7 linked regions of the Homo sapiens genome follow. The protein of the gene in region 2 purifies or fractionates together with the protein of the main gene of each other region. This does not show direct contact. Each region holds a gene or a part of one and is shown on either strand. Other genes may lie near its edges. The genes, in order: KHDC4, CLOCK, VPS50, CMAS, RPRD1A, TDRD9 and PUM1.

Region 1 (2,434 bases), on a different chromosome or scaffold from region 2:
TTCTAGATACACGTTGGTTGGAAACAAAAGGTTGTCTGTATACAATTTTTTTAAAACTATTTTCTCTCTCTCTCTCTCGGCACACGTTTGTTGGAAATAAAAGGTTGTCTGTATACAATTTTTTAGAAACTATTTTCTCTTTCTCTTTCTTTTTTTTTGAGACAGAGTCTCACTCTAGTGCCCAGGCTGGAATGCAGTGGTGTGATCTTGGCTCACTGCAACCTCCACCTCCCAAGTTCAAGTGATTCTCCTGCCTCAGCCTTCCAAGCCGCTGGAATTACAGGCATGCACCACCATGCCCAGCTTAATTTTTCTATTTTTAGTAGAGACGGGGTTTCACCATGTTAGCCACGCTGGTCTCAAACTCCTGACCTCAGGTTATCCGCCCACCTTGGCCTCCCAAAGTGCTGGGATTACAGGCGTGAGCCACCGTGCCCAGCCCAAAAGTATTTTCACTGGCCAACAGATTATAGAGGTTGGATTAAACACCTGAATGAACATCAGGTTAGAAAATTAATAGCTTTATTTATGTATTTATTTATTTATGAGATGGAGTCTTGCTCTATTGCCCAGGCTGGAGGGCAGTGGTCTGATCTTGGCTCACTGCAACCTCTGCCTCCCAGGTTGAAGCGATTCTCCTGCCTCAACCCCCTGAGTAGCTGGAATTACAGGCGCCCACCACCATGCCCGCTAGTTTTTGTATTTTTAGTAGAGATGGGATTTCACTATGTTGGCCAAGCTGGTCTTGAACTCCTGACCTTAGGTGATCTGCCCACCTCGGCCTCCCAAAGTGCTGGGATTACAGGCGTGAGCCACTGCGCCCGGCTGAGAAAACTAATAGCTTTAGACCAGTCTTAGCCACTCCCCTGTTCCCCCAGCTATATCACACTCACCATGGCTCCCTGTTAAGGTCCCAGACCCATTCCTTTCATCGGACTCTGTTTTTATTCCAGTCACTGGAAAGGCTGGTGGAGGCATCAACTGCCTATTGAAAAACAAAATGAAACTTTCTTTCAGACAATTTAAATTTTCTTAACTTATCCAGTGGATTAGAAGTGCAATTATGTCTGCAGACAATCCTTCAAATTCATTTTAACCATTAATTTCAACCCCTTCCACCTTCCCCCAGCCCCTTTATAAAAGTATAAGGCCTGTCTACACAGCAATTGCCATGACAAAAATCGAATGAACTGTTATAGAAAGATATCAGCTCCTTTCTTATGAAGGTTAATATACTAATATAAGAAAGGAAAATTCAAGCACTGTGTGGCAGGCTGAACTCCCACATTCATGTACTTCCATCCATGATATTCTAATGACTCTAAAGTAGCAAAAATAGCTGAATTATGTAACATTTCTGTTACTGTCTACCCTTAGGAAAATGGCCAAGATGCAGACAATGGAAGTCAAGAAAGATGTCTGAACAAGTAATAAATTATTCAAAACCGAATATAACTGCTTCTAAATCTGTAAAAGGCCTATCATATTTTACTTCATTGCATCAATTACAACAAACAGAAGCATATTTGATTCAAAGATTTCATTTCAGTTTCAGAATACTTAAGCTCATAGCAATGATCATTACTCTCACTAATGGTGCAAACAAATAACATCTGAATACATTTGCATAATTATTCCAACTTACCTGTCCCTCTCTCTCTCTTTGCCTGAGGAACTTGCTGGCTTCGATCCTGCACCTTCAATCTCATTCTGACTGGAGAAGCCTGTACCTAAATTAGTCATATGAATGGGTCCATGCTATGAGCAGAAAAATACAGTGGCATTAGCAAATCTACAACTGCCGTATTGACTTTAGCTCCTTAATGTAACTGTCAAGTGCCTCATCTTTCTGATAAGTTGTAGTACGTTAAACTACTACAAAGCTCTTTGGGATCTGCTGTGTAACTGTAGTCAAAAGTAGGGATTTTTTTTTTTCTCTATAGGACTTGGACAGGGGTGTTATAATTCATTATGCTATCTATGGCCTGTTTTTAACTGACTGCCCATAGCTCCACTAGTTTCTATAAACCTAGCTAGAAACTATAAAAAAATGCTTTGGTTTAAAGAATGATTCAAGGATTCTGGCAAAATGGAAAGGTACTTCTGATAAAATTGCACCAAAACTACAAATTAAGAATCTTTTTAACTTTAGTGGCTAACTTTACAATTACATGTACAGAATCACTCCTTTTCTAGCAGTCTTGAGGGGTGGGGAGACTGGAGGGAGATATCACTCTCTTTTTTAGGTGGAGGGTAAAAGAGAGAGCACCACTGAAAGCCAAGGTTTTAAATACAAACCACATACTGGTAGATCAAGAGCTTTGAGTGAGATGTATAAGAAAGTAAGAACTCTCAGAGGCTTTCAAGAGTCTGTTGAATAGGATAAAAAACCTAACCAAAATGAATTCCAGAAAGCAGAAATCCTAGTACTGGG
Region 2 (3,500 bases):
CCCAGCACTTTGGGAGGCTGAGGTGGGCAAATCACTTAGGTCAGGAGTTTGAGACCAGCCTGGCCAACATGGTGAAACCCGATTTCTACTAAAAATACAAAAAATAGCAGGGCACGGTGGCGGGCACCTGTAATCCCAGCTATTCGGCAGGCTGAGGCAGCAGGATCACTTGAACCCAGGAGGTGGAGGTTAAATAAATACATAAATAAATAGTCATTACTAGATAAACTTTTCCTAAACAAGTTAGTTGTTTCTATGTATGTATATATTTACCTATTTCTTTGTTTGACACAGGGTCTCACTCTGTCACTCAGCCTGAAGTACAGTGGTGTGATCTCAGTTCACTGCAGCCTCAACATCCTAGGCTCAAGCGATCCTCCTGCCTCAGCTTCCCAAGTAGCTGGGACTATAGGGATGCACCACCACGCCCGGCTAATTTTTGTATTTTTATTTGTAGAGGTGGGGGGTCTATGTTGTCTAGGCTGGTCTTCAACTCCTGGGCTCAAGCAACCTGCCCACCACAGCCTCCCAAAGTGCTGGGATTCTAGGCATAAGCCAAAATGCAGGCCCTTCTAAACAAGTTAATATATTTTAATTTTCCAGTACTAAAGAATGTGGTAATAAATAACCTTTAGATGCAAGCTTTTGGGTGGGTACTTCTCACTCTACACATTTTCCATTCACACATGCCTATAAACGCTTATTCAAAATTCAGACCTCTCTCCTGAATTACAGTTCCATATTTCCAAATATCTGAATGTCCTCATACATCTCAAATTCAATATGTCCTAAAATAAACTAACTGCTTTACTCCTCACACCCAATCACACAATTTTCCGTATTATTCTATACATGTGTAGTGGCCAGTGTCTAGAAATCTGATAGTTAAAAAAACATACTCTTTCATTTTTACCTTTCATCATCTAAGTGGCCATTACTAAATCTTTTCCATTTCATCTAAGTATTTTAAAAATCAATTCTATCTCATCCATCTTGAGTGCATTGGTTTAGACCCCTGCCATCACTGATTTGCTACAGTGTTCACCAGTCTCCCTGTCCTTCAACTCATCTTCTCTTCTAGGGCCACAATTACCTTACCAATACTCAAATATTATATGACTTCCCTGCTAAAAAACCTTCAGTGGTTCCTTGTGCTAAACTCTCTTCAGCATGGAGAAATAAACAAGAAAGAAACAAATTTTATTTCTGGTTTCTGATTACTTTTCTAGCCTTACCTCCCACTATCTCTTCCCCCTCCACACACTAACCCTAGACTCTAGTCATACTAAACAATGTATTCCATCCTGCCTCTGTGTCCCTGAATGACCTGCAGCACTCTGTAATAGTTGAGAGCTTGGGCTTTGAGAAAAAAACAATTATTAATTAATAGAATCAAGTCCCAGTTTCATCACTAATAGCTGAGACTTTGGGCAAGTCACTTAACTTCCCTAAGCCTGTTTCCTTATAATGTAAAATGAGGGATCGTAATGGCATCTAACTTATAGGGTTGTCATAAGAATTAATGAGATAATGCATATAAAATACACAGCATGTAGTAAGCACTCAAATGTTAACAACTATTATTTCATAAGATCAAAACAAACCAAGCAAGACTGGCTTAAGATCTTCTATTAATTCAGTACTTTGTCCTATACTATGATGTCCCCCCAAATTTATTTGAGACAGAGTCAGACTCTGTCTCAAAATAAAATGCAAACACAGTTCACTGCAGCCTCGACCTCCTGGGCTCAAATGATCCTCCTGCCTCAGCCTCCTGAGTAACTGAGACCACAGGTGTGTAACACCATGCCTGGCTAATTTTTTGTATTTTTTGTAGAGATGGGGTCTTGTCACGTTGCCCAGGCTGGTCTCAAACTACTGGGCTCAGGCAATCCTCTCGCCTTGCTCTCCCAAAGTGCTGGGATTACAGGCATGAGTCACCTCGCCTGGCCCCGCCGAAATTTTAAATCTTAGCCTGGCTGCCTCTTTCCAGTCAGTTTCTAGTGGTTAACTCTTTCACTTTCCCACTTCCCTACTTGTCATCTGTTTGTTGGGTCCAGGAAATAAAAATAAAATACCTAATTTTACATTTGAAAAGGTAAGTTATATGTGGCAAAGAGCCACTTGTACATTTCAAATAAAAATTTAAAAGTTACCTTCTAAAAATAAAGATTCCAAAAACCTAGATTTTTGGACTTTCCCTTTTAATAGAGATAATGAACAACACACAAAAGGATCCTAAAATCTTCCACAAAAGTAGGGCAATATTGATATATAATAATCACTGGTTAACTGCAAAGGATATATACTAAAAAATTAGTTATACAATTTAATGAGTGTCTTGATAACTCATCGTTTCAAAAATATTATCATGCATATTTAATGACTCATAGCCATTCCACCTCAATGTCTGCAGGAAGTTTCAGGCAGCTCTCAGCATATGAACTGAAATCCCCTTTGGGAAATAAAATTAAAAACATACCTTGATGAACTGAGGTGTAGCTAACCTGACAGTAGCTACAAAACAAACTCTATCTTCATAAGATGGCCTATGTGTGCGTTGTATAGTTCCTTCAAAACCATTGTGTGCTGAAGAGGATACTAAAACAATAGGGAAATATGTATCATCAGTTATGCCAGCAAAACCTAATTGTCACTGATATTCAAACATCTATGTCTTTAAGAGCACAGAAAAATAACAAGTTAAAACACATTGTGAGAGAAGCATTTTAACTCACCACTGTTTAAAGATTTGAAATTTCCTATAAATTTTACATATTCATAGGTAGATGGCTCCTTTGGGTCTATTGTTCCTCGCAGCATGTGACAACAGAATTCTAACTGATTTTTTGCTGAAATAAAAGAGATTTTAAAAATCACATATTTCTGATATAAAACAATGATTGATATACCACATAAAGTAAGATCATAAAAGTTGTGTAAGTTTACAACCATTATTTTCCCCAACAGAAGTCGTCAATGACATTTAGTTCATAAAAGTAGAGCACCTTCAGGAGAGGATCTCACTTTGTCTTTAATAGAAAAAATAGATTTTCTGGTGCAAACAACTTAATGTTTCCCTATTTTTAGCTACTCATCCTTTTCATTCTTTACTCACTTTCAAAGGAAAGTTTTGCTTCACATTCTAAAGCTAATCCTTCCATCTCTACCATTTATAGTCTTTCCTATTTTCTCTAGGACCCGGGCCACATCACTGTTCCTTATTCCTTTAGCATCTACACCTTTGGGTCCTTACTTTCTTCTTTTTTTTGAGACAGGGTCTTGATTTGTCACCCAGGCTGGAGTGCAGTGGCATGATCACTGCTCACTGTGGCATTGAACTCCTGGGCTCAAGTGAGCCCCCTGCCTCAGCCTCCCAAGTACGCAAGACTACAGGTGTGAGCCACCATGCCTGGCTAATTTTTAATTTTTTATAGAAATGGGGTCTCACTATGTTGCCCAGGCTGGTTGCAAGCTTCTAGGCTCAAGCAATCCTCCTG
Region 3 (3,500 bases), on a different chromosome or scaffold from region 2:
TTGTTTTAGTCAGGGCTTAAGTTTTAGCAGACAAGGAACTTATAAATAAAGGCAGTGTTAGGGCTTCCTGTTGGTCCCTTCCCACTGTTTCCCTGAGGTTTAGTCAATTAAATTTTTAAAAAATTTTTAAACATTCTCAGTCATGAAACTCAAAGGCTCTGCTTTAGTATAGTTCAATTTAAATCTTTTTCAAACAATTTACTTCATTGTTTACAATTAACAGAGATAACTTGTATTCAAATATATATAATAATTAATTAATCAATGGTTTGGTGTTCAGTCATCTCTCTTTTGACATGGCATATATCACTGTGAGCAGGTGTTGACTATGAACAAGGAGAAAAAGCAGAATTTCAAATCATGACTCTCTCTGGGACCAAATAACAAGGAAATCAAAACTTAAATTCAATTGTAAAAAGTAAAAGTTCAGAATAAAAAGTAAGATGAAACTCAACTCAAAGGACAAAAGGGATACAACTTGGGGTCTAGCTTATATCAAGAGAAATCTCATGTTAGCTCTCCCTTCCCTCAATTTATTGCTGCTGTAAGGATATAATCACACTGCTATTATAAACATTCTTTCCCACCTTCCTCCACTACCCAAACCATTCCTAGTCACTCTTTTAAATATTAGCAGTGATTGTTTTGCAAAGCAATGCAGTATACAAATTTGGATTTATAGGGGAATTCTGAATATCACATCCTCTCCTCTAGAATCCTTCTTACATTTAAAAGATAGATACTCTCAAGCACCCCCTCACTGAGCACTGCCTCTACTGATTTAACTTCCTTATAAGCACACCCATATGTATGCAGGTATGGAACAGTGGCCAAATTCTTTCTGTGAACCTTGATATAATAATCATGTTTTACTCATTAAAAAATCAGTTCAATATTTTAAGCCCCTCAAGACAAAAATATATTAAAATGTACAATGAATATGTAATGAGAACATTTCATCATATTTTGGTTAAAAAAATCCTTAACCATCTTAAAAAAGCTACAACACATTCAAATTCAAAAGTAATTGTTTAAAATCAATTAATGCTATAAGATTAAGTATTAGACAAAAGTATTCTCATTACCTAAATAAGTCGATTCATATCTTATTAGAGTTCTTACCTATGGTAATTCTTGAAATAATTGACACTTTGTTTTCTAATAGATTCCTGTAAAACTTCAGACTTGCTACCACAAAATTCTTCTCCAACTTGCATCAACCTAGTTGGATAAAAAGGTTTCAGTAAATTTCAGCAGCAGCCTTATAGAGAAAAAGAAGTGTGGTTTCTCTTTCTTCAAAGATAAAAAAAATCACTAAAATTTGGACATGTGAAAAAATTCTAAAGATCACAAATCCATAAAGGTTTACAAACACCCAAAGGGCAGAAATATTTAAATACACTCACAAACTTAGCAGCAAAAATTATCTTCATTTCCATAAAGAAGTTATAGATGATAACTCACTAGCTCATGATTTATCATGGTTGAATGACTCAAACTAAAGAATAAGACAAGATCTTAAATACTACCTGCTGATTATATCCAAAACAAAGATGAAATCATCATATTTGAATATAGACAAATCAGTTCCAAGCAAGTAGGTTTTTACTTTTAGCTGAACATCCTGTAAGGCAAAGAAAAAGAAAATCAAGCAAACCCAAAATATAGAAAATAAGTTATCAGAAGCATTTACTCTATAGTTCCAGATTAAAATGAGACAGGAATATATTCCTAATTTGTTAACGAATATCTATTTAGGCCAATAGCCAACATCCTTAAGGGATGTAATAGAGACAATCCCATTTCCTATACCAGGAATGCCATCAGGTTGCCAAACTGAATGGAAAGTAGCTACATAAAGTGCTAAGTCAGTATTTCAAAGTACACTGAATTACCAGAAATTCTATCATAGATTGTAAAATTTTACCAAAGTACACTTAAGGCCTATTGGGAGACTAAGTCAGAAACAAATCATATCTGATCCTGGGTGTATATTCAATAACTATAAGATTTTCCTTTCTTTTTATGCATAATACTCAGAAAACAGTCAGCCTAAATCCACAATTAATGATAAATTAAATATTTAATTTTAATAAATGTTTAATATGGTTATGAGTTTAATATAGACAAATGAGAAAATATATGTCAAACCTCTTACAACCACAAAAATAAATTTTAAATACTAAAGCATAAAATCAAATAGCATATCGAATACAAAATTATCAAAAATTAGAAGAGCACTAAATTATAAATATTAACTGATTCATGAAGAAATTTATGTTTTCAAAATATATTTTCCTAAACAATTTTTTTCAAAACATATCCTATAAAAGATGGTCAAGCTGGGCATGGTGGCTGATGCCTGTAATCCCAGCACTTTGGGAGGCCAAGGCAGGAATATCACTTGGGCCCAGGAGTTCAAGACCAGTCTGGGCAACATAGCAAGACCCCATATCCACCAATAATAATTTAAGAAAATTAGGCATGGTGGTGCACATCTGTGGTCCCAGCTACTCAGGAGGCTGAGGCAGAAGGATCACCTGAGCCCAAGAGGTCGAGGCTGCACTGGGCCATGACTCTGCCACCACACTCCAGCCTGGGTGACAGAGTGAGACCCTGTCTCAATCAATCAATCAATCAATCAAAAGAAAGAAAGAAAAAAAAAGATGGTCAAAATAAAGATCAGCCTCATTAGAAAAATCAAAAATACATTTTAAAAGACCATAACATGGCCAAAGGGTCTATAGTCTTCCAAGGTTCAAAGAAGTCCAAAAAGAGTAAGTTATCTTCAAAGAAATTACACTGTGATCTAAGAAGTAACAAATTATCTGATTACAACAACTGAGTTACTAAATTGTAAAGAAAAACTTAATAAGATACTGCTATGGTCTGAATGTTCATGTCTACCCAAAATTCCGAAGCTGAAATTCTAACCTCCAAGGTGATAATATATTAGAAGGTGGGGCCTTTGTGAGATGATTAAATCGTGAAGGTAGAGCCCTCATTAATTAGATTAGTTCCCCTATAGAAGGGACCCCAGAGAGCTCCTTCATCCCTTCCACTATTTGAGGATACAGCAAGACAATGTCTATGAACCAGGAAGCAGGCCCTCCCTCCCAACAATGCTGGCACCCTGATCTCTGACTTCCAGCCTTTAGAATTCTAAGAAATAAACTTCTCTGTTTATAAACTATGCAGTCTAGAATATTTTGTTATAGGAGCCCAAATGGACTAAAACCAGATATATTCAGCCAATAAGCATGTAAGATTCCCTCAAGGTACAAAGATCATTGACTGAGAAAAAAAGAATTATTCATTCTAAACTATAATCTGACCTAAGTATGCTATCTACTTAGTTACTCCTTTTCTAAAATTAACAGAAAAAAAAATTAAGAAAACACAGATAAATGAAATAATAAACAGAACATCTCACTGAGAAAGCATACATTTCTCTATGATAGTGGAAATTTGCTAGGCCTCTAAAACAAAAGATGTACTCA
Region 4 (3,500 bases), on a different chromosome or scaffold from region 2:
GGGAAAAAAATGTTCTCTTGGGAAATGTCATAGTCAAAGGTATATAACAAAGTAAAGTAGCAATGAAAACCTAGTGCATTTTTAAAATAGAGATGACGAGAGGATAAGATGAAATTAGAATACAATAAAAAATAAACAGGGAAGGCAAAAGACATGGTAATTTGGCATCTAATTTACATTAATTGAAATAAATTGCTGAAGCCATTTACTTCATTATCCTGATTTTTACTGCAATGAAAATTCAATACCAGAGGGTTCAGTGGTCTTTAAGTAATGTTTAAAAAGCAAGAAAAAAAACAGAATTTTGGAGGAGGTTTGCTTTTCTTCCTTCCTTCCTTCTTTCGTTCATTCATCCTTAATTTATGAACCATTTACTAAGTGCTTATTCTGTCCCAGGCACGATTCTGGACACTAGGGATGTAATAACATATAGAGCATAGTTTATTTTCTTGAGAAAGTCTTGGCCTACTGATGGAGACTGAGGCCAATATAGCGGTGTAATTCTCTTTAAACCATTAGGAAAAGAGAAGCGAGGGATCAATTAAGTAACTACGCTCTTTTCAGTGCTTTACTTTTTACAAAGTACTTTCACAGTGCCTGCTACATATCAGGTGCTCAATATAGATCTGTTGAATGAATGAAACAGTAAGGGATTAAAAGGATGGTTTCTGAAGGAAGAGGTTCAATTCTGGCTCCACCACATGCTAGCTATATGACCATGGGAAAAATCCATATCTCCCTATGCCTCAATTTTCAGTAAAATGGAGGTAAGTAATAATAGTGGGTACCTCATATGGTTTAGAGGATTAAATATAAACCATTTACTACAGAATAAACATTTAATGTTAGCTATTCAAAATACCAAAATAGGAATGGTAATAAAGTAACATCTACTCTGTCTCATTTAATCCTCACACTCAATCTTCAGAAGGTAGACTGAAGTTCTGCTTCCAGACCTTCAAAGGTCCAAATGTCTAATTTGTATGTTATGTTAAGCAATTACACTGTGAAAAAAATATGAAAACAGTATCCCATATGTACACTTAAAATACTATGATCATAACCTATGAAAGAGACTGAGTAGATAATTTTCCTTTGGTTTAGGGACATAAGATGGGGCTATGCAAAAGAGAAAATGAGCAAGTGAACAAACAGGCCAGTCAAGCAGAGTGAATGTCAAAGTCTAATGCCAATGGCTTTAGCCTCAAATGAAGTCACACCACATCTAACAGGACCAACAGGAATATCAACCATGGTGCCTGTGATAACTATTTTAAATCAGAAGCTGCCATTTTAGGGATAATAACAGCATAGGCCTTTCATTAATCAAAAGTCTATACCCTAAGCATAAAACTAAAACATGTTTACTTTTCCCAAGTATGTTAGGCAACACTTACAAATCAATTTGTTCTGAGGTTTACTTACACAGCACTGAACCACTGTTGAAAATTAAGCTCTTACAAAATCAACTCTGGCAATAACTTTGTACTAAAGGAAAAAAAATTATCTCAGCATTTTTCTTAACTACTAACTAGCCTAGTTAGTATGCAAAGTTAGCAACCTTGAAAAGTACTGTTAGCTTTGATTCTGAGCAGGCCAGAGAAATCTGCCTCAATTAAGTCAAATCGTGGTTTTGAACAAAATAATCTCAAAGGTATCTTCGAGCCCTGAAAAACACAAATCAGACAGCTGCAATTTTCTTCAGCTCTCTCCTAAGGTAAACATTTTTTGAAGAAACAAAAGAGAGGGTAGGAGGCAGGAAGGGTGCTCCAAAGTCCTCTTACAGCTTCATAGTAAGTCAATTGAATATAAGTCAACACATTTTAATGATCTAGTATATAAAGCATACCATGATGAATAAGAGGGTACTTGCTCATAAGAAGCTTAGCTTTTCACCTAGTATGGCAGGAGTCTCCCCAGGCCAAATTCTGCCCACTCCTCAGCCTGTTTCTGTAACATTTTATTGGAATACAGCCACACTCTTTCATTTATGTATTGTCATGGCCACCTTCACAACATACACAACAGTAGAGCTGAGTGATTGCAACAAAGACGATCTGGCTTACAAAACCTAAAATATTTACTATCTGGCCCTTTACAGAAAAAGTCTGCTGGCCACTGAAACTGAAAAAGAGAATAAAGACATCTTTCCACTAACTCTTCAAAGTCAAAGAATGTTAGCACCAGAAATAATTTTAAAGATCATTACAACTTTCCCGTTTTACAAGCAATGGGAGAGTTTCCCATTTTACAAGCATGGAAGATAGTAAAAACCTTCTAAACAAGAGGAAAATGTCAATAACAGATTACATACTATGTGCCAGGCACTATTCTAAGGGCTGCACGTACATTATCTCACTTAATTCCCTCCACAAGCCTGTGAGGCACACACTTCAGTACATTTTGTAGATGAAGAGACTGAGGCACAGAGAGGTTAAGCGATTTACCCAAGTTTGCACAGTTAACACATGGTGATGCTGGAATTCAAATCCACAGTTTGATTTCAGAGTCTGTGATCTTATCTCCCTGCATAGGGCATGCACTAAATGAAGGTACAAACGACGTAGCTATGTATGGGAAAACAAAGGCACAATTACTTTTCACTGAGGGGATCAGTAAAGGCTTCATGGAGGAAGAAGTGCTGGTCCCTTCTATTACCTTTTGACCTAATCTCTCCAGATGCCTGGAAAGGATGACAAATAGCACATAGCCACAAAACTTGAACAGAGTAAATTCACATTGTTACATGATACTGTTAAGTTAGAAATACATTCATTTTGCTAGTTTAGAAAAAAAATTTTTTTTTTTTTTTTGAGACAGAGTCTTGCTCTGTTGCCCAGGCTAGAGTGCAGTGGTCCAGTCTCGGCTCACTGCAACCTCCACCTCCCGGGTTCAGGTGATTCCCCTGCCTCAGCCTCCTGAGTAGCTGGGATTACAGGCATGCACCACCACAACTGGCTAATTTTTGTATTTTTGGTAGAGATGGGGTTTCGCCATGTTGGCCAGGCTGGTCTTCAACTCCTGGCCTCCGCCTGCCTTCGGCCTCCTAAAGTGCTGGGATTACAAGTGTGAGCCCAGCCAATTTTATTTCTTCTAATCGCCACCATTGATATAGTGACAGATACCACAGGTGGCTTGAAGAAGTATAAAACATTATCCCTGTGGTCAATGAGTTTACACTCTAGTCTAGAAGTATTAAATAAAACTACTTGGTACAGAAAAGGTTGATACTAGAGTCTTTTTTTAAAAGAAGTTTTGTACAAATGCTAAAATGTGGAAATGGGAAAATCATTGGTCAATATATATACATATTTTCCAATCATTTCATAGCAAAATCCCCAATGCCTGCTGTAATGGTTGGTTGTTGGGTTCTGACCAACAGAATCTATTCCCCCTCACTTTTGGTAATTGTACTCCAATTTTCCTCTTGATGAACCTGTCATGTTTTTCAGCGGGGGCTCCATCGCTGGTTTCAAGAGTGGAAGATGAAGCTATACTGT
Region 5 (3,500 bases), on a different chromosome or scaffold from region 2:
AAAGTGAAAATAGTATCTTGGTATTTGGACCCCATGCTCAATCACCTCATATGGAATTTGTCCTTTGGAAAACACTGGTAAATATATTTTTAAATCTTGTAAATTTTTATTTTAGTGTATATTGTAAAAGCAATTCTGAATTCTTTGAGAGATTGATATAACCCATGAATTTAAAAAACATTCTAGGGCCAGGCACAGTGGCTCACACCAGTAATCCCAGCACTTTGGGAGGCCTAGGTGGGAGGGTCACTTGAGCTCAGGAGTTCAAGACCAGCCTGGGCAACAAAGTAAGACCTTATCTCTACAAAAAATTTAAAAAATTAGCCAGGCATGGTGGCGTGTGCCTGTGGTTCCAGCTACTTGGAAGCTGAGGCAGGAGGATTGCTAGAGCCCAGGAGGTCGAGGCTGCAGTGAGCCTTTAGTCTGGGAGACAGAACTTGTCTCAAACAAAAAAAACAAAAACATTTTTTTTGTTTTTGTGGTAATAAATATTATTTACCATCTTCATTTTTTCCGTGTACAGTCCAGTAGTGTTAAGTACATTGTTGTGTAGCCAGTTTCCAGAACTGTTCATTTTGCAAAACTGAGACTCTGTACCCATGAATAATTTCCTATTCTCCTCCCATTCCCACAGCCTTTGGCAACTATCCTTCTACTCTTTTTTTCTATGAATTTGAGTACCTCCAATAAGTAGAATCATACAGTGGTTTGTCTTTTTTCATGACTCGATTATTTCACCTGGCATGATGTCCTGGAGATTCATCCATGTTGTAACATGCGTCAACATTTCCTTCTTCTATAAGGCTGAATAATACTTTATTGAATATATAATTCACATTTTGTTTATTCATTGATCAGTGGGTTAGGTTGCTCTTAACTCTTGGCTATTGTGAATAATGCTGCTAACATTGTAAAATATTTTTATTTCAGTTGCTACTTTTTGTTTTGCATTGTTTTATCTTTTTCTTCTTTTCAGTTGCTACTTTTGAGTCTCAAAGATTAACATGCCCTTTTAATTATGACAGGAAGCATGGTCTAGTTGTTAAGAGGGATTTGCTTGGCTGTTGGACTTTTTGGATTCCAATCCTGGCTTATCTCTTCCTCATTATTTCCCTGAGGGCAAATAATGTTTTTGGCTTTGTTTGTTCAGCTGCCAAATAGAGACATATTGTTAGGATTGAGATAATGTATGTAAAGTGCTTGGAATAGTGTGTAGCACATAGTAAAAGTGCAGTGAAAGGATTGTTTGTTCAGGTACCCATTCAAAAGTGATGCAGGCAATCTCCCAATTAGATAATACAAATTTGAGTTTCTAAACTCATTTGACACTGGGAAGGCAAAAATCTGGATTGAACAATACCAATCTATTTTGTGGGTGGGATTGAGAGGGCAAGGATGGGTACAAAAGAGACAGGACTGAATGTTAGGATAGGGTCCCGATATCTTAACCAGTTGTACACTGTGGTTTATCTAACCAGACAAGGAGCCTGAAAACCAGAAGCTGGTCTCTGTTATAGCCATCTCTTCTTATTTTTATTCCATGCCAGCAACTTGCAAAATCATGAAAAGTGGTAGACAGCAATTTAAACAGACAAACCAGGTTATACAGTGGCATGGCACAGGTTTGTAAAGTTTGATCAGTTGTGACTTAGTATATGAGAAGGTTGGGCTTCTGGTTGCTCCTCGAGAATGATGTGAACTCAGAGGTGACTTTTTAATATGTCAAATGCTTAAATTTGTAAATTGAATACTTAACATCTAGAGGACCACATGTAGCCTGATCAAGATTTTTGTCTTAAATCCAATAAGATAGCCCACATCAATAGGATACTGCATAATTGGTCCTGACCATAAGTTTCCTACACCACTGTACTATGGATGCCACAAGGTATGATGCTTCTGAATATAACTGTACTACATTGAGTGATTCAAATTTAATTCTAGTAAAATATAAGAATAGTATAAAATATTATGTTCAACACTGTTTTCCTTATGTATAATCTTATTTGAGTCATATTCAGTAGTAGTATGCTATTTAACATTGTAACCAGTAAAAATGTACTGTGGCCCACAACTGTTGAAATCTTGTCTATTTCCTTAGAGAAATGACTACACCCACAGAGCATAGTGAGTAGGGGAATATTTTTGTCATAATGAATTCAGTTTAAAATTTATGGCCATGTAATCTAAAGACAGAAACATCTAAACTTTTCCCATTTACTCTCCCTAGCAGTTAATCTATTAGCTTGGCAAATATTTATTGCATAAACAAAAAATAGTAATTGATTGAAGGGACATCTCTTTCAACCTGTTTTACATTTCATGCTCTTCTGTTGTTTCACAATAGCTTAATAATGATTTCGAATTAACATGTCTATTAAAACAATCCTAAATTCAATGTAGGATTTAGGGTGCCATCTTAATAACATGAGCAATCACCATCTTATTTTAAATGACTATATTTCATATAGTTTGTAATGGTTTTACTAAAATTTAATACAGGATAGAGTCACCGAGATGCATTTTTACATAGACATTAGTTCTGGCGATTTTAGCAGCAGTGACTGGTTAGTTTGGTAGTAAAATGAGAGACTAGGGTTGAAATGATACATAAAGGTTAGTAGGGTTATTTTAGTTCTCAAAATGCTTAATTTAGGTATTGAGAAAGTTTGTCCAAGTAAAGATGTTTTAAGTAGATTTTTAACTTTTTCTTATTTTTCAGCCAAACCAAACAGGAAGCTTACTTTTCTCTACCTAGCCAATGATGTCATACAGAACAGCAAGAGGAAGGGGCCAGAGTTTACAAAAGATTTTGCACCAGTTATAGTGGAGGCTTTTAAGCATGTTTCAAGGTATGATCATAGTTTTGGGTATTAGGTAATCTGTTTTAAATGTACCATATGTCCTTTTGCTAAAATTTGCCTTAAACTATTAAAATAAAAAGTAGGGAATATAGTTTTTTGATGCTTTTATTTGAAAAGACTTCCCTCTACATGGCATTTATAAATGTATTAAATGCCTTCTCTGAAGGAAAAATATTTTTTGAACTGTTGCTAAGGTGGGCCTTTGGAGTACTTGAATTACAGCTTTCCTTTAAGAGACCAGAACCAACTGCTATATTGGAATGAACTTCATTAAAAATGAATGAAGGTATTGAAGTAAAAATTTGTGTGTTTATAAAGCTATCAGTCTTGTAACAAATATTTCCATATACACTTAGTACTGTTTCTATTCTTTTTTTTTTTTTTTTTTTTTTTTTTGAGACAGAGTCTCACTCTCACCCAGGCTGGAGTACAGTGGTGCGATCTTGGCTCACTGCAACCTCTGCCGCTTGGGTTCAAGCGATTCTCCTACTTCAGCCTCGCAAGTAGCTGGAATTACAGGTGCCTGCCACCATGCCTGGCTAATTTTTGTGTTTTTAGTAGAGACAAGGTTTCACCATCTTGGCCAGGCTGGTCTTGAACTCCTGACCTCGTGATCCACCTGCCTCGGCCTCCCAA
Region 6 (3,500 bases), on a different chromosome or scaffold from region 2:
AGACACAGAAAAGAGGAAGGAAAAAAAGCTGATCCCACAATTACTCATTATAAAGGGACATAGAAAACAGCAGCATTTAAAGACAATCCTATTATAGAGCCCATAGATACCAGAAAACATCCTCTCATTAAAACTGTAAAATGTGGGTAACGCCCTAGACAGTAGCCTGATGTGTAATCAATAGTGAGCCCAGATTGTGAGTGAGGGGGAATGTGGCAAGACAAGGATTTTTCTGGAATCAAAATTAGATGACACTAGAAATTATATCACTTAGACTATTTGGCAAAACTATCTACAAAAAATTAACTTTGACACTTTGGGAGGCCAAGGCGGGCGGATCACGAGGTCAGGAGTTCGAGATCAGTCTGGCCAACACAGTGAAACCCTGTCTCTACTAAAAATACAAAAAATTAGCTGGGCGTGGTGGTGTGTGCCTGTAATCCCAGCTACTTGGGAGGCTGAGGCAGCAGAATCGCGTAAACCCGGGAGGCAGATTGCAGTGAGCCAAGATCATGCCAGTGCACTCCAGTCCAGACAACAGTGCAAGACTCCGTCTCATAAATAAATAAATAAATAAATAAATAAATAAATAAACTTTGACAATGACCAAAGTGAATTACCAACATCTCAGGAACAACATGATCAGGGATGGAGTTGTCCCAGAAATCCTTGTGTACCAGCCGGTAACAGTACCCTCTAGACACTCGTCCAGCACGGCCTTCAAAGGAGAGATGTGCAAACAGTGTTTGGCATTAATTACTTTAACATCAGCATGAAGGTATCTTTTTAAACAGTCATTAAATATTAATTAAGCAAAGCCTTAAGTATCTTCCACCAGACTATGTCAGTAAAAACTTTAGAATACATTAGTGTATTCTTAATAAGTTATTATTTTAAACATTATTCTAAATAAGAATGACTATCCTAAAAAATTAGAATAAATAGAACAAGACTAAATGCTGACTTCTATTCAGTGACCAATATTATAAAATCCAATGCATATTTCTGAAGAAAACAACCTTGGCCCAATATGCAACAGAAACCAAGTACACCCTTCTTGAAAATGCACAGTACATAACAGAAAGTCACGAGGTTGGCGACAGGCCCTACAATGCCATCGAGGAGCTGTCTCAGCACCCTGTGCTTCCCACAGCTCCTTGCCCCACTGCAAAGCACCCTCCCAGCTGTCAGCCACACCGCATTACGTGACCGAGTGAGGAACAAGCAGAAGGTTCAGAACCAAGGCTGGCCCACAGAGACCATGACACAAACTACTACTCTCTTGTGACTCTATCACCTATGAAGTAGCAACTCTTTTATCCTAACACATAATAAAATAGTCCAAGGAGAGAGAGTGAAGGGAGGGGTAGGAGGGAGTCTTAAAATGCAGCTTTAAAAGAAATGGGGCAACCCAAAAAGCATTCTTTCCCCACCTATGGGGATCTAGATCCTAACAAAAGATATCTATCTAGAAGGGTGAAGGCCTCTTGGCAATGTTTTCTTTAACCTATGATGTAGGTCAAGAGGGGTGAACCAATGTTTTGTTTCTGACTGATTATGGATTAACAAAGGTACTATTAAAATTTTTTATCTAAATCTACCCTTTGTCTTTTGTTTATTAAGGCATAAGATAGATGCTAAAACAGACCAAGTTGTCTTTTTCTCCTACTAATAAAAATAAAAAATCCCAACATAAAGAGGTCCCCGCTACTCTAACCCTTATAAAAAAATAACTTAAAGTCCTTGTTCCCACCTGACAAAACTCACTGTCTCAATCTCTTGGCTCAAGAGATTGAGCCAATCTCAATCTCTTCCCAGGGAGATCTGAGACCAAATAAACACATTTACAATGGTGACAAAGTGACATCAATGCCTAAGGTTTTGGTCAACCTCTTAATCTTGACAGGTTGACCAAAAGGGAAAGTTGTTAAATTAAGTTTAGCCTACACCTGTAATCCCAGCACTTTGGGAGGCCGAGGCGGGCAGATCACGAGGTAAAGAGATGGAGACCATCCTGGCCAACATGGTGAAACCCTGTCTCTACTAAAAATACAAAAATTAGACAGGCATAGGGGTGCGCGCCTGTAGTCCCAGCTACCTGGGAGGCTGAAGCAGAGAACTGCTTGAACCTGGGAGGTGGAGACTGCAGTGAGCCGAGATCACGCCACTGCACTCCAGCCTGGCAATAGATCAAGACTCTGTCTCAAAAAGAAAAAAAAAAAAGAAAAGAAAAGAAAAAAGGTTAGCCTAAAGATGCCTCCTTACATATTTTAAGTTCAGCCTAAAAGTCTCTCTGCATATAGTAAACTATAACCTAACTAGATATGTAAAAAGACTATAACCCACTCTTATGCCAATCACCGGGTTTCAGCCAATCAAAGGCAACCAACTGCTCAAACCACATTCAAAGAGGACCAATGCCCAGGTGTAGTCAATTCGGCCATTTCTGTACCTCACTTCCATTTTCTACACGTCACTTTCCTTTTTCTGTTCATAAATCTTCCTTGACCACGCAACAGCACCAGAGTCTCTCTAAACCTCTTCCAGTTCAGGGGCAGACCAATTTGCAAATTGTTCTTTAAAACTCTGTTAAATTTAATTTGTCTAAAATTTTTTTCTTTTTTTTTTTTTTTTTTTTGAAACAGCATCTCACTCTGTCACCCAGGCTGGAGTGCAGTGGCGCAATCATGGCTCAACTGCATTGACCTCCCAGGCTCAATCTATCCTCCCACCTCACCCTACTGAGTAGCTGGGAGTACAGGCGCATGCCATCATGGTTGACTAATTTTTGTATTTTTTATAGAGATAGGGTTTTGCCATGTTGCCCAAGCTGATCTCAAACTCCTGGGCTCAAGCAGTCTGCCCACCTCACCCTCCCAAAGTGCTGGGATTACAGGCATGAGCCACTGTGTCTGGCCAAAATTTTTCTTTTAACAGTGGTGCTGGCAAAGATACGGAAAAAACAGATCTCACACATTGCTCATGGAATGTAAAATGACACAGCCACCATGGAAAGAGTTTACAGTAGTTCCTTATAAAACTAAACATAGGCCGGGCACAGTGGCTCATGCCTGTAATCCCAGCACTTTGGGAAGCCTAGGCAGGCAGATCACGAGGTCAAGAGATGGAGACCGTCCTGGCCAACATGGTGAAACCCCATCTCTACTAAAAATACAAAAATTAGCTGGGCGTGGTGGGGCATGCCTGTAGTCCCAGCTACTCGGGAGGCTGAGGCAGGAGAATTGCTTAAACCCAGAAGGTGAAGGTTGCAGTGAGCCGAGATCACGTCGTTGCACTCCAGCCCAGCGACAGAGTGAGACTCCGTGTCAAAACAAAACAAAAGAAACTAAACATAGATTTACCACATGACCCAGTAACTATATTCTTGGGTTTTTATACCAGAGAAATGAAAACTTATGGCCACACAAAAACCTGTACATGAATATTCACAGCTGTTTTATTTACACGGCAAGAATTGGAAAAACCTCAAATGTCCTTAA
Region 7 (3,500 bases), on a different chromosome or scaffold from region 2:
GGTGGTGTCTGTGAATGTCCTGGTCCCTGACTAGGGAGAGGCATGCCCACGGGTCCAGGAGAGGAGGAAAAGCTAAGGCCGTTATAAAAACTGTGTCCAATGGGGGTCAAGCTGCTCGATGTCCTCTTATAAAGGTCACTGCTGCCAGTCAGGGAGTCACGGCGGGAGCCACTGCCAGTGTTGGAGTTTGCAACTAAAATGGAATTAAAACAATGCAGATAAGAACAGGCCTGTTCTTCGAAGAACAAGCCCAGTGACCTGTTCCTAACACTTTGATCCAGACTCCTTACCACCGCAAATTTGTCAGCAGAGACAGCCTAACTGTTAATGTAGCAGTACTAGGGGCAGATAAGTAATAAAGAGGACATGGCTCAGGTTAACATGACCATCAAACATATGCCAAATTTACCTTCCTATGGTGTCGTATATTATAGGATAAGGGAGGGTTAAAAAGCTCTGACGGCCACATGAACTATGGAAAAGGTGGAAGAAAATGGACTAGAAGAATGCCTTTCATCAATTGAAAAGGTTCAAGTAGAAAAATGGGATACAGAAAAAAGATTTGTAAATGGGGTACTGCCCCACTACACAAGACTTCTATATGAAAGCCTGTTTTCTCAGTGGGTTCAATCGAGAGTTAATGCTGCCCTCAATTCCAATTAAGATACTTTCTTTCACACATGCCCTTCTATTTAGGGATCACTTTTGTTTGTTTGTTTTTTATAATCTCTGCAATTATCCCATTATTCACCATACTACACTCCTGCTTTTTTCATCAAAACATTAAAAATATCTTGGTCTAATATCCTTCCTCCTAATTTTCCACATGTCTACCTTAAATTCTACTCAAAAGACTGAAGAAAACTTGTAACTCTTTAAGGCCTGCAGGCCAAGAACTCGGCTCAGTCTCAATTGTGGAGTATTTCAGCTCTGCTATCTTTAGTAAGTCCTCCTCCCTCAGTTTTTGATATCAATTTCTACAGTTCCCTCAATATTTTTCCCAAATACAGCAAAAATCTTCCCTAGATTTCAAATCCCTGAAAGAAACTGATTAAGTAAGTAGCCACATGAGCATGGATTGAAATAGGTCCCATCTGTATAACTTGATTTCAATAGTCTATCATCTCACAGATTATGTGGGATGGCTGGATTCCCACAAGGCTTGGTCCAGATCTGCCTGTGGTTCCATGCATTGCCAGTATTCCAGAAGGATTGTAAAAATAATTAAAATTCAGTCTTAAGAGCATATCAGTCTAATTTCTACCTGCTGTTCCAAACCCTCCAAGGGCGGATCCCAGGGTGGCGCCGAGAGAACTGCTACTTCCGAATCCCAAGGATGTGTTGGCAGGCTGGGCAGAGCCCTGGGAGAAGAGGGAGCTGCTCTGTGAATTGCTGTTCAGAGAGTTGTTGCCGTAGAAAGAACTGGATGCCAGGTTGTTATTGGGCTGCTGCTGGGGCTGGGGCTGAGGCTGCTGTGTTCCTAAAGGGCGAAATGGTCCATTTGTTGTTCCAGCAAGACCACCAGCTGCTCCATTTGCTGAAGCTGCGGCTGCTGCAACAGCTATGAAGAAGAAAGCAAACCGTTTGGCTATGAAAGGGACTGGCCACATTTCCAAACTACATTTTTATCTTTTTTCAAAAAATCTTTTAATGCTGCCTATCTTTTCAAAACAGACACAAACCATACAAATCTGTCTTTGATCCCTTCATATGAAGCTTCTATTTTCTGTTTCTACTTTCAATTTGAACTCAAAATACCACTAGAACAAGTTCACTATGCTGGTTGCTTTTAAGAGTATACAGATTAAAAGGGGTATAAACATCAAATGTATCCATTAAATACAACTACTTCCTAAAATCTTAAATTCCATAAATATCTATGTTGAGGGTTTCTTCTAGAACCATGTAATGCACATACACATCCTTCAAATTCCTATTTTAGCACACTGCTGTCTTCTAGATGTTCCTGTTATTGTTCTTAATTAAAAAATAAATAAATATAAACACTTAAAGTAAAAAACTATTACTCCTCCCAACCAAATGTATTATTTTGTCACTTCTCACTACTCTTTCCCACGTCCTCCACTCCTGCCCCTGTGGCAAAAAACAACCCCTCCTCTAAAATTATCTTAAAATAATGACTTGGATTTCTGCCAACAAAGCCATTTTGTGTGAGTAATGCAACTTCTATGTTCTCAGTGGAGCCAGACCTTCAGACCTTGCTTCTAACCAGCTGGCACATGCCACCCCTCCCCCAACCCACCAACCCCCCAACAAAAAGGAGAATCCACTAAGGTCACTTATTGCTTCTGATCTCTTTTTGAAACATTACAGGGTAGAACCGATATACTGAGAATTGCCAAAAGTTTATTTCAACATACTTTAAGAATCTCACTATCAGTCGCCACTTTTAGATCTCTGGCAGGAGTCCACTCAGATGTGCGCTCACCTGCTTGTGCAGCTGAGGAACTAATGATGACTGGGGCAGGAGCTACAAGTCGAACAGGAGCTCCAAGACCATTTCTCGCGCCTGCATTCACTACAAGGGCACCAGTTTGGTCATAGTAAGCAGCAGGAGCCAACACCGGATAACCTAGGAATATCAAGCCAACAAAGAAATGTATATGTTAAACAAACAAGTATCTCCTGGGCACCAACATATTGTCAATAATCACAAACTCAGCTTTGAGGTTGAATTGGCCAGATTTATATACTGGCTCCATCACTTAAATAGTTGAATAAACAGAGGCTACAAATGATTATAAAAATCATAGTACTTTCATACTACATAATAATTTAAGAACAAATATCCTGCAAAATAGCAGGAAAAACCTAGATAGGCTTTAAATAACATGATCTTTCAATATTATGTGAGATAGAATCTCCAAATCCCAGTTTAAGCCATATGAAAAACTGCAGGTGACTTCCTAAGAACACACAAAGGCTCAGTAACTAAAAAACAAATGAAACAGGTTAAAGTTATTTATTGAATTCATAAATGGCTCAGTTAAATTGGCTATGCTCTATGATCAGTAAAGGTCCATAAAAATACGCTGACATCTCTCAAAGACTTGTTTCACATGTAGAACATCAAAGTACATCTAATCCCATGCAAAGCACCAAACCAGCTGACAGTGAACCAAAAACAACATATATTCAAGATGTATCTATATAAACATGTATCTCAGAGGTAGACAGCTAAAAAGGACCCCTACTATTGGTTTAAGAGAAACCTTAAAAACGTAAGGGATGACCCTATCAAGGTATACCAGAAATTTCTCACTAATCATGCTGTTCAAAAACATCAACATAAAGACTAAGCCTTGTAAACTAGCTTGGCCACTCCATCTATCCCTGATTCTGAAACAGAAAACAGATAATCCACCAAGGAAAAACCACATATTCCAAGCTGCATGGACATTTAGATACCTCCAATATGACTTAAGACTGGCTCAGAACAATGCTCTCATCAGTGAACTATAGTCTAAGTGAGGGCAAGT

What was found.
Region 1: the proteins of CLOCK (region 2) and KHDC4 purify together in Homo sapiens (affinity purification with mass spectrometry; one large-scale study listed by BioGRID and IntAct). This does not show direct contact.
Region 3: the proteins of CLOCK (region 2) and VPS50 purify together in Homo sapiens (affinity purification with mass spectrometry, with the first as the bait; one large-scale study listed by BioGRID). This does not show direct contact.
Region 4: the proteins of CLOCK (region 2) and CMAS purify together in Homo sapiens (affinity purification with mass spectrometry; one large-scale study listed by BioGRID and IntAct). This does not show direct contact.
Region 5: the proteins of CLOCK (region 2) and RPRD1A purify together in Homo sapiens (affinity purification with mass spectrometry, with the first as the bait; one large-scale study listed by BioGRID). This does not show direct contact.
Region 6: the proteins of CLOCK (region 2) and TDRD9 purify together in Homo sapiens (affinity purification with mass spectrometry; one large-scale study listed by BioGRID and IntAct). This does not show direct contact.
Region 7: the proteins of CLOCK (region 2) and PUM1 purify together in Homo sapiens (affinity purification with mass spectrometry; one large-scale study listed by BioGRID and IntAct). This does not show direct contact.

What each region holds. Positions count from the first base shown.
Region 1 is NC_000001.11:155,914,980-155,917,413, forward strand, and holds part of KHDC4 (KH homology domain-containing protein 4), read right to left. Parts: intron 1,759-2,434; coding exon 1,646-1,758; intron 986-1,645; coding exon 894-985; intron 1-893.
Region 2 is NC_000004.12:55,456,410-55,459,909, forward strand, and holds part of CLOCK (circadian locomoter output cycles protein kaput), read right to left. Parts: intron 2,853-3,500; coding exon 2,739-2,852; intron 2,602-2,738; coding exon 2,483-2,601; intron 1-2,482. UniProt on the Homo sapiens protein: Transcriptional activator which forms a core component of the circadian clock.
Region 3 is NC_000007.14:93,294,866-93,298,365, reverse strand, and holds part of VPS50 (syndetin), read right to left. Parts: intron 1,625-3,500; coding exon 1,530-1,624; intron 1,222-1,529; coding exon 1,123-1,221; intron 1-1,122.
Region 4 is NC_000012.12:22,049,218-22,052,717, reverse strand, and holds part of CMAS (N-acylneuraminate cytidylyltransferase), read right to left. Parts: intron 1-3,500. UniProt on the Homo sapiens protein: Catalyzes the activation of N-acetylneuraminic acid (NeuNAc) to cytidine 5'-monophosphate N-acetylneuraminic acid (CMP-NeuNAc), a substrate required for the addition of sialic acid.
Region 5 is NC_000018.10:36,033,060-36,036,559, reverse strand, and holds part of RPRD1A (regulation of nuclear pre-mRNA domain-containing protein 1A), read left to right. Parts: intron 1-2,722; coding exon 2,723-2,852; intron 2,853-3,500. UniProt on the Homo sapiens protein: Interacts with phosphorylated C-terminal heptapeptide repeat domain (CTD) of the largest RNA polymerase II subunit POLR2A, and participates in dephosphorylation of the CTD by RPAP2.
Region 6 is NC_000014.9:104,001,456-104,004,955, reverse strand, and holds part of TDRD9 (ATP-dependent RNA helicase TDRD9), read right to left. Parts: intron 719-3,500; coding exon 621-718; intron 1-620. UniProt on the Homo sapiens protein: ATP-binding RNA helicase required during spermatogenesis. Required to repress transposable elements and prevent their mobilization, which is essential for the germline integrity.
Region 7 is NC_000001.11:30,964,718-30,968,217, forward strand, and holds part of PUM1 (pumilio homolog 1), read right to left. Parts: exon of another isoform or gene 3,446-3,500; intron 2,594-3,445; coding exon 2,450-2,593; intron 1,562-2,449; coding exon 1,265-1,561; intron 194-1,264; coding exon 1-193. UniProt on the Homo sapiens protein: Sequence-specific RNA-binding protein that acts as a post-transcriptional repressor by binding the 3'-UTR of mRNA targets.